Linked DNA regions of Homo sapiens. The protein of the gene in region 2 interacts with the protein of the main gene of each other region in a pairwise test. Each region holds a gene or a part of one and is shown on either strand. Other genes may lie near its edges.

Evidence for each region.
Region 1: the proteins of HERPUD2 (region 2) and SPTSSA interact in binary tests that used the Homo sapiens proteins (3 or more experiments, as listed by UniProt).

The regions. Positions count from the first base shown.
Region 1 is NC_000014.9:34,432,252-34,438,240, forward strand, and holds the end of SPTSSA (serine palmitoyltransferase small subunit A), read right to left. Parts: intron 3,054-5,989; coding exon 2,950-3,053; 3' UTR 537-2,949; downstream 1-536. UniProt on the Homo sapiens protein: Component of the serine palmitoyltransferase multisubunit enzyme (SPT) that catalyzes the initial and rate-limiting step in sphingolipid biosynthesis by condensing L-serine and activated acyl-CoA (most commonly palmitoyl-CoA) to form long-chain bases.
Region 2 is NC_000007.14:35,685,108-35,692,143, forward strand, and holds part of HERPUD2 (homocysteine-responsive endoplasmic reticulum-resident ubiquitin-like domain member 2 protein), read right to left. Parts: intron 1-7,036. UniProt on the Homo sapiens protein: Could be involved in the unfolded protein response (UPR) pathway.

The DNA.
Region 1 (5,989 bases), on a different chromosome or scaffold from region 2:
TTGGAGGGGTTCAAAATTTCAGTGGAGGAAGTTAACTGTAGATATGCTAAAAATAGCAAGAGAACTACATATGGAGCCTGATGATGTGAGTGAATTACTGCAATCTCACGGTAAAACTTGAACAGACAAGGTTTTGCCTTTTATGGATGAGCAAAGAAAGTGGTTTCTTGAGATGGCATATACACCTGGTGAAGGTGCTATGAACATTGTTGAAATTACAATGAAGGACTTAGGATATTTTATAAACTTAGTTGATAAAGCAGCAGCAGGGTTTGAAAGGATTGCTTCCAATTTTGGAGGAAGTTCCATTGTGGGTAAAAGGCTATCAAATAGCTTACATGCTACAGAGAAATCTTTCATGAATGAAGAGTTGATCAATGCAGCAAACTTTATTGTTGTCTTATTTTTAAAAATTGCCATAGCCACCCCAACCTTCCGCAACCATGACCCAGATCAGTCAGCAGCCATCAACATCAAGGCAAGACCCTCCACCAACAAAAAATTATGACTTGTTGAAGGCTCAAATAATCATTAGCTTTTTTCAGCAATAAATAATTCTTTAATTAAGATAGGTATATTGGGTGTTTTTTTTTTTTAGCCATAATGCTACTGCACACTTAATAGACTACAGGATGGTGTAAATGTAACTTTTATATGCAGGGGAAAACCAAAAAACTTCATGTGACTCACTTTATTGAGATATTCACTTTATTGCAGTGGTCTGAAACTGAACCCACAATAACTACAAGGTATGCTTGTAAATACCTTATTTTTAACAAAAAGTGAAAATGATTTCCCTGTTATTTACTAACAAATAGACCAGACATTTGCATCAGACAGTGAGCATAAACTTCTCTGATCACCTCTCAAGAGACATCTCCCATTTCTCTTTTGACTCTCCTCAAGATTTCCTGTAAGACCAAACTTTATCTTCCATATGTCTCACAGGTCAGTGTTCATAATAACCATCAGTTATACAACAGCAATTTAATGAATCTCAGAGTGAAGACAAATTGCCGGTTTCTGAGTAGAGGGCCAGGATAGGTCACCTGGATACTCATTGAAACTAATGATTCTCAACTTCTCCTGCCTTCAACTCACCAGAGGAATATTAGACATCCACTTGTTAGTGGTTCTCTATGGGGGATAGTAGAGGAAAGCCAAATTTGGGCATTAATAGAACAAATCTTATGTTAAATCCTCGTATTATTTTTCTTGAGATAATATGACTACAGCTCAGATATAACCATATCCAATTTTTAACTACTTCAAACCAAGTAATTCCATATTATTCTCACTACTCCTATCTAATTGTGGTATCAATTGGCTCTAAAAATATTAAACACATATATATTACTTGAGACCTCTAGACTATAAAATACTTCAAAAGTCTAGTCCTTAAAACGTAGGGCAAAAAATACCTCAATTTTGGCCGGGCGCGGTGGCTCACGCCTGTAAACCCAGCACTTTGGGAGGCCGAGGCAGGTGGATCAGGAGGTCAGGAGTTTGAGACCATCCTGGCCAACACAGTGAAACCCCGTCTCTACTACAGATACAAAAAATTAGCCAGGCATGGTGGCAGGTGCCTGTAATCCCAGCTATTCAGGAGGCTGAGGCAGGAGAATCACTTGATCCCAGGAGATGGAGGTTGCAGTGAACCGAGATCATGCTGTTGCACTCCATCCTGGGCGACAGGGCAAGACTCCGTCTCAAAAAAAAAAAAACAAAAAAACAACCCAGCAACACACATAATTGCCTAATTCTTTTCAATTAGCAATATTTTTATGTTGCAAAACATATAGGATAAGACATACTTACTGCTTATCTGGTCCTCCACAGAAAATAATTCAGCAATATAAATACTAGATCAATATTTAACCATCAAGGAAAAGATATACTGCTACATCAGCTGATTTTTTTTCTCTTTGAATTTAATGTATTTACATCAAAAAATTAGGTAGTCATTTTACATTTAAGGAATAAAAACCTTAAAAAAAACAATACAAAGAGTGAAAGGATTTTAACCAAGTTTACATTTCTTTTTGCTATAATTTTTAACAACAATTCGTCTCATCATAACTTAATGCAATGTGCAAATGCAGCACCCATTACAATCATTAAACTAAATTTAAGGAAGTACATTGTTAATAGTGACCCTCGGAGGAAATGGATTTCTCTTCTATTAAAAACTCTATGGTATATAAGCATTACATAATAATGCTACTTAACCACCTTTTGTCTCAAGAATTATCACCAAAGTTTTCTGGAAATAAGTCCACATAAGAATTAAATATTTAAAAGGTGAAATGTTCCTTATTTTAACTTTAGCAAGATCTTTTCTTTTTCATTAAGAAACACTTTAATAATTTTAAAGCAAAAGCTGTTAGAGTCTAGATAGCTAAAACTGTACTCCTGAGTTCAAGCTTACAGATAAATCTTTTGTTAAGTAGTTCTCAATAAAATATCTTCCCTCCCCATACCCCTACCCGAAATCTTATATTGTTCTTTACAAAACTTTGGTCAAGAGTAGAAATATATCCAGGCAGATGTATATGCCATACAATAGCAAGAACAGTAAAGCCCAACTAATGATTTTGAGTTTTAAAAATAGAAGGCAATTAAAATGTACTCAAAGTTACATTAAGAAAAGCTTTCACGGGGGTAATATTGAAACAGTCACAAAGGTTAAGAAAATACTGATATCAAAGTACAAATGACTACAATGTTAAAATAGACAAAAACTGCTATACAAGAGCCTCTTTGAAAATTAAAAATAAAGAACACAACACATGAGTCAGGATGATTTTCCTGTTCTACTCATGAATTTTAGTCTTTATAAGGTTGGTTATGTTGACATCTAGAAGAGTTTCTTATCACATCTGATGGTCTCATTCCAACTTCGTAGGGTGGGTCTTCCCCAAGGAACCTCTGATCCTGGTCGCATCTTGGTCATTGTACGATTTCAAAGTAGTGCAATATCGCCATGATGTGCTGGGGCATGAAGACGTATCCTGTGTATAGTGCCATCCCCACAATGGAAACCAGCATGGAATCTGAGTTGTAGTTAAGGAAACTTATTATTATTAATTTATTCAAAACTAAATCTCCACATGTCTTCAACAACTCTTTTATGCTGAAGTACCCATTCACTTAGTGCTTTCTCATTTATATCAAGCACTGATAAAAAAAACAACAAGAATGATAATACTAGCCACTAACAACCATGCCTGGCACCACTCTAAGCTGGTTTTGTTTTATTTTGTTTTTAGCTCATTCTATCTTTACTATCACCATATAAAGTAAGTACTGTTATTCTCCCTGTGTAGTTGAAAATATCAGACTGCTTCAAATGTTTTTGTTTGTTTGTTTCTCTTTTTTTTTTTTTTTTTTTTTTGAGACAGAGTTTTGCTCTTGTTACCCAAGGCTGGAGTGTAATGGCACGATCTCGGCTCACTGCAACCTCTGCCTTCTGGGTTCAAGTGATTCTCCTGTCTTAGCCTCCTGAGTAGCTGGGATTACAGGTGCCCGCCATGACACCCAGCTAATTTTTGTATTTTTAGTAGAGACAGGGTTTCACCATGTTGGCCAGGCTGGTCTCGAACTCCTGACCTCAGGAGATCCACCCATCTCAGCCTCCCAAAGTGCTGGGATTACAGGCGTGAGCCACTGCGCCCGGCAGGACTGCTTAAAATGAAGCATAGAATGTGATACTGTTCTACCTAAGAAATAAATATACAGGAATAAAATTCTATTTAATTACTATAAAAGATCTACCAACTTAACTAATAAGAATGTATGATCAAAGAATTTTAGAATTAGACTAGAATGTGGCTAAAAGTATTTTTAGAGTCAGACAAAGCTAAAATCAATCATACACTAGCTTAGGGATGACAGCAACTGCTACTGCTATTATCACTATTAAACATTATTATCACTATTGCTACTATTTGCAACAACTTCAAATAAAGGTAATCTTGATAACCTAAACAATAACCTTTCTGTACCATGTTCCTTTCTTTTTATTACAAAAGGAACTGAAACTGTATATATGGAAGTCAACAAGAGGCCTCTCTCTGGGGCCACACAAAATACTGCTAGCAAAAATTATGTCAAATCTAAGGGCTTTTGGCTTTGCACAGTTACATAGGATGCTAAGAGGAATAACTGTTTTTGAACTGGAGTCATGCTTTATTAATTCATTCATATTCTCATTCTTCTCTCTCTCTCCTCTTTCACTTGCCTTTCCCCTTTCTCAACTCTACATACCTTTCAGCTATACATACTATTATTTTTAAAATAACTTACATTCTTTTATGAGAAGATAGGGTTTAAATAAACAATGTGCTTACTATCAACTAATATTTGTATAACAGGTTAGTTGACAAATCTCTTCCACAATTACATTATCTTACTTAACCCTTATAGCTTTCCTATGAAATGTTTATTATGTTCATCACTAATCAGAAGCTGAGAAAACTGAGTAGCTTGTTCAGGGCCATACAGGAAGCTGTCTTTAGAGCCAGAGGTCAAACCAAGACTGCCTGACTCAAGCCATAAACTCATTCTCTTCATCCAGCAAACAAGAGCAGAAAGTCTTTCACAATCTTTTTTTTACAATTTACTTTTTAACCGCCCTTAATCCAGTTATTCCTTAAACTGCCGCCTTCTATTTACTAATTTCTTTAAAAAAAAAAAAAGAGAGAAAGAAAAATATATACATTTGCTGCTTCTATATCATTGGCATATATTTGTTCATCACCAACACACCATCTGATTCTTACTCCTCCAGACTGTAGGCATTGTTCTAAGATCACTGGTGGTCTCCACCAAATCCAAAGGCTGTTTGAATTGACACTGTTTTAGTCCTTCTTCTTCAAAACCCTTTCCATTTATGCCTGTAGTGCCAGCTACTCTGGAGGCTGATGTGAGCCGGAAGGGCACCACTGCACTCCAGCCTGAGCAACAGAGCCAGACCCTGTCTCAAAAAACAAACAGAAAACAAAACAAAACAATCCTTTCCACTCTTTAAAACTCTACTCTGGGCTCAGGTATTTTCTAAGGCCCTCTTTTAATCTCTCTTACCATTTCCCTGTTTTTCACTGGCTCTTTCCTTTATGATGGATGATAGATAAGAGTGAACTTTGTGCTTTCCTTGCAAACATCCACTCTCCTCCTAGTATAGCAGCCATGCCCTTTTGGTTAGACTAACCCATCTTCATGGATAACCCCTGACTGGTCTTAACCAATTAGAGGGATCTCTTTTGCTTGGTAACAATGCCCTACATCAAAACTGATTAATCAGCTCAAAGCTTAGGACTTCAGCCAGGAATTCAGGAACATAGATGCTCTCTCCTACAATATGCAGCTTGCTGATGGAATCTTGCAATCACTGGAGTCACTTTACCTCCATGAGGAAAGCAAGATTCAGAACAAAGCTGACTCAAGAAGGTGGCAGGACAAAAATAATCACAGAAAAATGGAGTCAGAATCCTCATCAAAAAACCCTGAATCCCACCCTACCACTGGATTTTTACATACTAAACTAATAAATCCCCTTTACTTTTTTTGAGTCAAGGTCTCACTCTGTTGTCCAGGCTAGACTGCAGTTACACAATCATAGTTCACCACAGCCTCGACCTCCCAGGCTCAGGCAATCCTCCCACCACAGCCTTCCAAGTAGCTGGGACAACAAACACGCACTACCACGCCCAGCTGATTTCTTTATTATTTTTGTAGAGATGGGGTCTCCCTATGTTGCTCAGGCTGGTCTTGAACTCCTGGGGACAAGCAATCCTCCCACCTCAGCCCCCCAAAGTGCTGAGATTACAGGTGTGAGCCACCACGCCGAGCTGGCCAATCCCCTTTACTCTTAAAGTAGCTTGCTCAATTTTGTTACTTGCGGCTGAAAACGTTCCAGATGATAAAATGGAATTCCCATCGTTTTGTCTTGGGCCCCATATTCCCTCATAACTTAAACAACTACAGGTTG
Region 2 (7,036 bases):
GTGCATGCCTGTAGTCCCAGCTACTTAGTAGGCTGGGGTAGGAGGATCACTTTAGCCCAAGAGGCAGAGAGGTGAGCCAAGGTCGTGCCACTGTCCTCCAACCTGGCAACAGAGGGAGAGACTGTCTCAAAAAAAAAAAACAGAAAAGAAAACAGAAACATTATTAATTTTTTCATGTGCCTAAACTAGGTAAAAAGTAACACTTGGAATTTTTTTTGTTTTTTTTTTTTTTTGGAGATAGAGTCTTGCTCTGTCACCCAGGCTGGAGTACAGTGGCATGAGCTCAGCTCCCAGCAACCTCCGCCTCCCAGGCTTAAGCAATTCTCGTGCCTCAGCCTCCCGAGTAGCTGGGATTACAGGCGCGTGCCACTATGCCCAGCTAATTTTTTTGTATTTTTAGTAGAGACAGGGTTTCTCCATGTTGACCAGGCTGGTCTCGAACTCCTGACCTCAGGTGATCTGCCCATTTCAGCCTCCCAAAGTGCTGAGATTACAGGCATGAGCCACTGTGCCTGGCCGGAAATTTTTTATGCCATTAAAAAACTGCCTCTTCAGTTTAAATATCAATGAATTTAATTTAAATATCAGGGCTGGGTGCAGTGGTTCACGCCTGTAATCCCAGCACTTTGGGAGGCCCAGCTGGGAGGATCACTTGAGGTCAGGAGTTCCAGACCAGTCTGGCCAACATGGTGGAAACCTCATCTCTACTAAAAATACGTGGCAGCAGCAGGTGTGGTGGCAGGTGTGGAAGGCTGAGGCTGGAGAATCGCTTGAACCTGGGAGGCGGAGGTTGCGGTGAGCCAGGGTTGTGCCACTGCACTCCAGCCTGGACAACAGAGCGAGACCCTGTCTCTAAATAAATAAATAAATAAATAAATAAATAACTTAAATATCAGGAAAATCATGTGTTAGACCTAATAACAAATGACAATAATCAACTGAATTTTCAACTAGTTATTTTGGTATTGTAAGCTACAGCATTAGGAAAAGCAGAGACTTTGAGATCTCAACTCAATTTGACTTGTAAAAAGTAATATAATGTTATTTATCCAGCCCTGCTAATATCATTACCTTTTTCTTTTTCTTTTCTTTTTTTTTTGAGACAGAGTCTTACTCTGTCGCCCAGGCTGGAGTGCAGTGGCGCGATCTCAGCTCACTACAAACTCTGCCTCCCAGGTTCATGCCATTCTCCTGCGTCACGTCCCAAGTAGCTGGGACTACAGGTGCCTGCCACCACGCCCGGCTAATTTTTTATATTTTTAGTAGAGACGGGGTTTCACCGTGTTAGCCAGCATGGTCTCGATCTCCTGATCTCATGATCCGCCCACCTCGGCCTCCCAAAGTGCTGGGATTACAGGCGTCAGCGCAGCGCCCGGCCTAACATTATCTTTTAGCTTGATTAAAAACCCATTTCCACCCGGCTAAAACGGTGAAACCCCGTCTCTACTAAAAATACAAAAAATTAGCCGGGCGTAGTGGCGGGCGCCTGTAGTCCCAGCTACTTGGGAGGCTGAGGCAGGAGAATGGCGTGAACCCGGGAGGCGGAGCTTGCAGTGAGCCGAGATCCCGCCACTGCACTCCAGCCTGGGCGACAGAACGACACTCCGTCTCAAAAAAAAAAAAAAAAAAAAAAAAAAACCAAACCCATTTCCAGGCCAGGGGTGGTGGCTCACGCCTGTAATTCCAGCACTTTGGGAGGCTGGGGGGGGGGGGGTGGGGGGGTGGGGGGGGGCGCGAGTCACGAGGTCAGGAGTTCGAGACCAGCCTGGCTAACATGGTGAAACCCCGTCTCTACTGAAAATACAGAAAAATTAGGTGGGCAGGCGCCTGTAATCCCAGCTACTGAGGAGGCTGAGGCAGGACAATCACTTGAACCCAGGAGGCAGAGGTTGCAGTGAGCTGAGATCACGCCACTGCACTCCAGCCCAGACGACAGTGCGAGACTCTGTCTCAAAAAAGCAAACCAAAACAAACCCATTTCTATATTAGTTAGGGTAATGATAGTTGCTATAACAAATCCCAAGATCTCAGTAGCTTAACACAATAAAAGTTCATTCGTTTCTCAATTTAAAAAACATTGCATGGTACCCTTCTAATATAAGAATTCAGAAGACTCAGGGTTCACAAATCTAAACGTACTAGTTAAATTGTCAATTTAAAGATTCTAATGATAAGATACTGGCTCCACAGAGTAACATATAAATATAATTGGCCTCTCCATTACCACCACCACTATTCTTCCTGGTACTCACCCCTACATCCAATAGTCAGCAAATTCTATCAGGTTCACTACTTTCACCACCAATACTTCACCCTAAATGAAGCCTGGTCACAGATGGCAGTGCAGAATCAGCCAAATAATAAGACAAAGAACAAGTTGGAAACATCCTGATGTACTCTGAGTGGCCCAGAAACAGAAATATCCCACTTCAAATAAACAGCTGCTTAACTAGCTGGCCGAGAAAACCTCTGCTACCCACTTAACAGACATTGCTAAAAACCAAGGTGAGGAAAGCTCACTTGCTGGTATAACAGGTTAAAATAAGTCCTAACCTGGACTTTTTTGTTGTTTCTAAAAGGTTTATGTATATGCCATTATTGAAAGTGTCTGACCCTTTAATGTTTAACCAAATATCAGAAACAGATCAAATATCATACATCCTTAACACATTTAAAATATCTCCTGGAGTCTGATAAATGGGTTTAAAGCCAACAATACTTTTATATTTCAAGAAAGTCACCTAGTTAGTATCAAATGATTAAATTTTTTATGTCAAGGATTAAATGGGTCTTTCAATTATGTATGGCTTAAAAATCATGTTCCTAGTATATCCAACTTCAGCATAATCAAATTTCATATGCTAATTTAAAAATATTAATTAAAAATTTTAAAATATCTATCATCTTAATAGTTCAGTAAAGGCAATCTTCAACTTACAGGTTAGTTCAATGAACTATAATCTAGTCCTTTAAAAGTAGTAACTATTAAGTACTTACATATAGTTCAGTCACAAATATCAAATAGCTTTAAAGAGCTGGGTCCCAGGAAGTGCACAAAATATCATTTCTGTGGGAAATGAATTCTGTAAATTTGTACTAGAACACATCTCCTTCCCATTTCCCACTAAAAGCATCCAATCTAAAAACCCTGAAAATTCAGAAACACTATAAATAGAGGCACAGTCACCCAAACTGCCTCTACCCCTTATCTCCTTGCAGTAACAGTAAGCAAAACTGTACCTACAGAATATTACAGAGTAATGTTCTCTGGAACTCCAAAGAGATATTCCCAGCTTAACTGCTTCCACTCATGGGTAGAGATATATGATATTCACACACCAAGTGATGTACACCTCTGATGTTCAATAGAGCCTGTCAAAGTATATGACTATGGTTCACACCAACTGGTAGACTGTGAAGACAGGACAAAGATATGTGCGCTGCAGTCTTAAGATATTATGCATCTAATCTTTCCTATAATTTATCAGAATAAAGAGATATAACCACACATTAAGCTAAGTGTTAGCACCATAGTAAGGCTGTTATCCATTTATCTACAGCCTTTAGACAACAAACCAGCCAAACATATAAATCTCTTTTTATAGCTCAACTGGTTCTTTTTAGTTTACAAGTATATAACTGAGATGGCTGAGTCCCTAAATGCCTTTCTTCATCTTATTATACATAACCATCACATATGATGTGTACAGTAAGTCCAACCTGGGTTCAAATTCTAATTCCACTCCTTAGAGTCTGACCTAAGCAAAAAAAAAAATCACCAAGCCTCGGTTTCTTCATCTATAAAGTAGAGCTAATTATAAACCTTACATCATAAGAAGTCTAGGAGGAATATATGTGATAAAGCATATCAAATGCTTATTATAATGCCTGGTACACATGGCAAACACTTAGTAAATGGCAAAGTCAGAGCAGTTAAATAAAAGCATTCTAGACAATCAAAGCAGAATTTATTATGTTAAAAAAAGAAACTTAAGCTAAAAGTTCTACAAAAATTCTATCTGGAAAGTATTGAGAAATGATTAAACATTACCTTCATAATAATGTTATTATATTTTCCAAAAAGACATAAGGCTACAAATACATTAAGCAATAAAATTTTAGTGAGCAGTCATTCAAAACTTTTAGTCTGTTTTTCATCAACTTTCACATTCGATAGTACCCTTTGTTCAAAAGAGGTTTTAAAATCTTGAACTATATTCCCAGGCGACATGAAACCCTCTTAAATGTATTAAAATCTTATAAGACAATAGTTTTATAAAACAAAAATTATTTTGTTTATGGATTATAGCCCCTTTAAATCAACAATTCCAAAATGGTTAAACAAGTAGACTTTTTAAAATGACCTAAGTAAGGTAATAGGAAATTACAAAACTAAGAGAGATAAAATTTCAAATGATATAAGCTATTTCTACCTGTAATGAAAGTAAGACTTCTGATTGCAGGCAATTTGGTTATGGAGTGTTATAATCTCACAACAGAACCTATATATACAATTGGTTCTATTCTTGCTTCTTTAATTCTAATAGAATCTGAGAGTAAAGGAACAGTTTGAAAAAACAGCACAAACCTGCTTAACTGATCAGGAGAGGTAGATAAGAAAATGACTGCTTTGGTTTAACAGTATGAACAGCAAAGACAGAGGAAATCTGCCCAGAACTGAGGGACACAATCAGAGGTATTTTGACCCCAAGACTGAAAAATGGAGAGCCAAGCCATGCAAGCCCCAAAAAGGTTTGCCTTCAAAACTGAATTCAGAGTGAGTCAGGTCCATCTTAGTGACTGCTTGTTCATGAGAACAGATATAGTAAGAGAATGAGAAAGGTACCTAAGTGGACTTGGATATTCATATTTTTAAAATTTTTCTCTAGGATGATCCATCTATTATCAACCGTTTTGGTATTTACATCTATAATAACTAAGTCTAAACTCAGATTAAAGTCTGAAACTCAAGTAAAAGTGGTCTTCTTGCCAAGTATCTTCACCACCAAACAGCAATTACCTAAATTTTAGAATTATTTCACAGTGCAGCCCAATTTCAGGATCTGAAAAACTAGTCATGAAGTGATGTCAAATGTCATATTACAACTCACAATTATCTATATATTCTGTAATATAAACTAGTGCACTTCCCATTTCCTAAACCAAGTCTTAAACCAATTATCAATATCATTCAAAGTTAACTCCAAAACAGCTCAACTCCACATCCGAGGTTTTTAATTATGACTTTGTGAACATTTTCACAAATATGGCAACTGCCTAAATTCCTAACCAGAAAACACCTTTCCCTTCACAGATCATTAAGGATCTATAATCTTTTTACCTAATACTGTATTACTAAGTAATATACTAATATAAAACAAAGTCATCAGTGCAAACATTAACTCCAAAAGAATAGTTAAGGCCGGGAGTGGTGGCTCATGCCTGTAATCCCAACACTTCGGGAGGCCGAGGTGGGTGGATTACCTGAGGTCAGGACTTTGATACCAGCCTGACCAACATGGTAAAACCCCATCTCTACTAAAAATACAAAATTAGCCGGGCGTGGTGTCACATGCCTGTAATCCCAGCGACTTGGGAGGCTGAGGCAGGAGAATTGCTTGAAGGCGGGAGGCAGAGGTTGCAGTGAGCCGAGATAGCGCCATTGCACTCCAGCCTGGGAAACAAAAGCGAAACTCCGTCTCAAAAAAAAAAAAGAACGGTATAAAAAAGGAAGCTATCAGAGTCTGATTCTTGTCTGCTTAAAACTGTAATCAACTCTTTAAGAAAACTTAAATGTCCCCGTGAATCTTTTCTTGAAACAGCTACACATTCCCCTAACCCCTACTCCAGAGATGATCATTCCCTTCCTGTGTTCCTATGCAACACACAGAACATCCCTCCTGTATAATACTAGTCACATACTATTACGCTTATTTACTTACATGTCACTGGATCTGAGCTTCACAAAAGCAAAGGACTCTTACCATCATCTTCACACTTAGCATAAATATTCAAATGCTAGGCCAATAAAATCCTAGTTATATAAATAAATGAAGACCCAAAAAAATGTGCTTTGAGGGGGAGGGGTACATTTGTTCTAAGTTTGCTAGGGGAGGGAGAAGTGAATTTAATATACCCATATGGAGACTGTGATTAGTCAAATCAATATCTGACCATGAAGCTAGGATCCCAAGATTTTACAACTTCATAGAGTTCAGCCAGAATTCCATTAACAGCATATAGACATATGACCTATCTTTGTAGGATCCTAAAAGGACAATCTCAAATTTCCATTCTTTCCCCTCTAGCAGCACCAATTTATTTTCCTAGAAGCCACTGCCCACAGGAACAAAGTCCCTCCACCTACTCCTGACCCATCAGATCCAATTAGAGCAATGTTGATGAGAGCCATCAACTTTTTACTTACTGGGGCACTCCTGTTCCTACAAAGCACTGGAGCCCTACTCTGCTAAGTCCACACACTGATAATGAAAGTAGGCATATGTGCAAGGAAGATGCACAAGAAATTATCTCTGTTAAACATAACAGCACTTGAAAACTAAAACACAGAATCAATGTTTAGTCATTGCAGGCGGTCAGAAAAACCTAAACTTCCTTTATAATATTACTTAATAGCAAACTGTGCTGAATTCTAAATAATGACCTTACAAAGTAAACTTTTAGGACTCCAACTCCTATGCTGAGGACTACCTATGGCTTTGCGATACCATTAAACTGCTGCTCAACAACTGTGATGCTTCAAATCAATTCTCACGTGATAAGAATGTAAACTTACTAAATCTAGTAACTATACAAAGTTTTCAGTGAAATTCTATGACGATAAACACACATACCCCCACCGCTCCAGAGCTCCACCCACTCAACCTAGAAATGAAAGTCAGACATTACAATTCACTTAAAGAAAACTTGTCAAAGGAGAAAAAAAGGTTTGCCATGTTAATCATTAATAGGCTGCATAGTATTTGGTTTAGCCTCCAAAAGTGTCTCCAGTGTGGCTACAGGAGGCAGGCAGTTT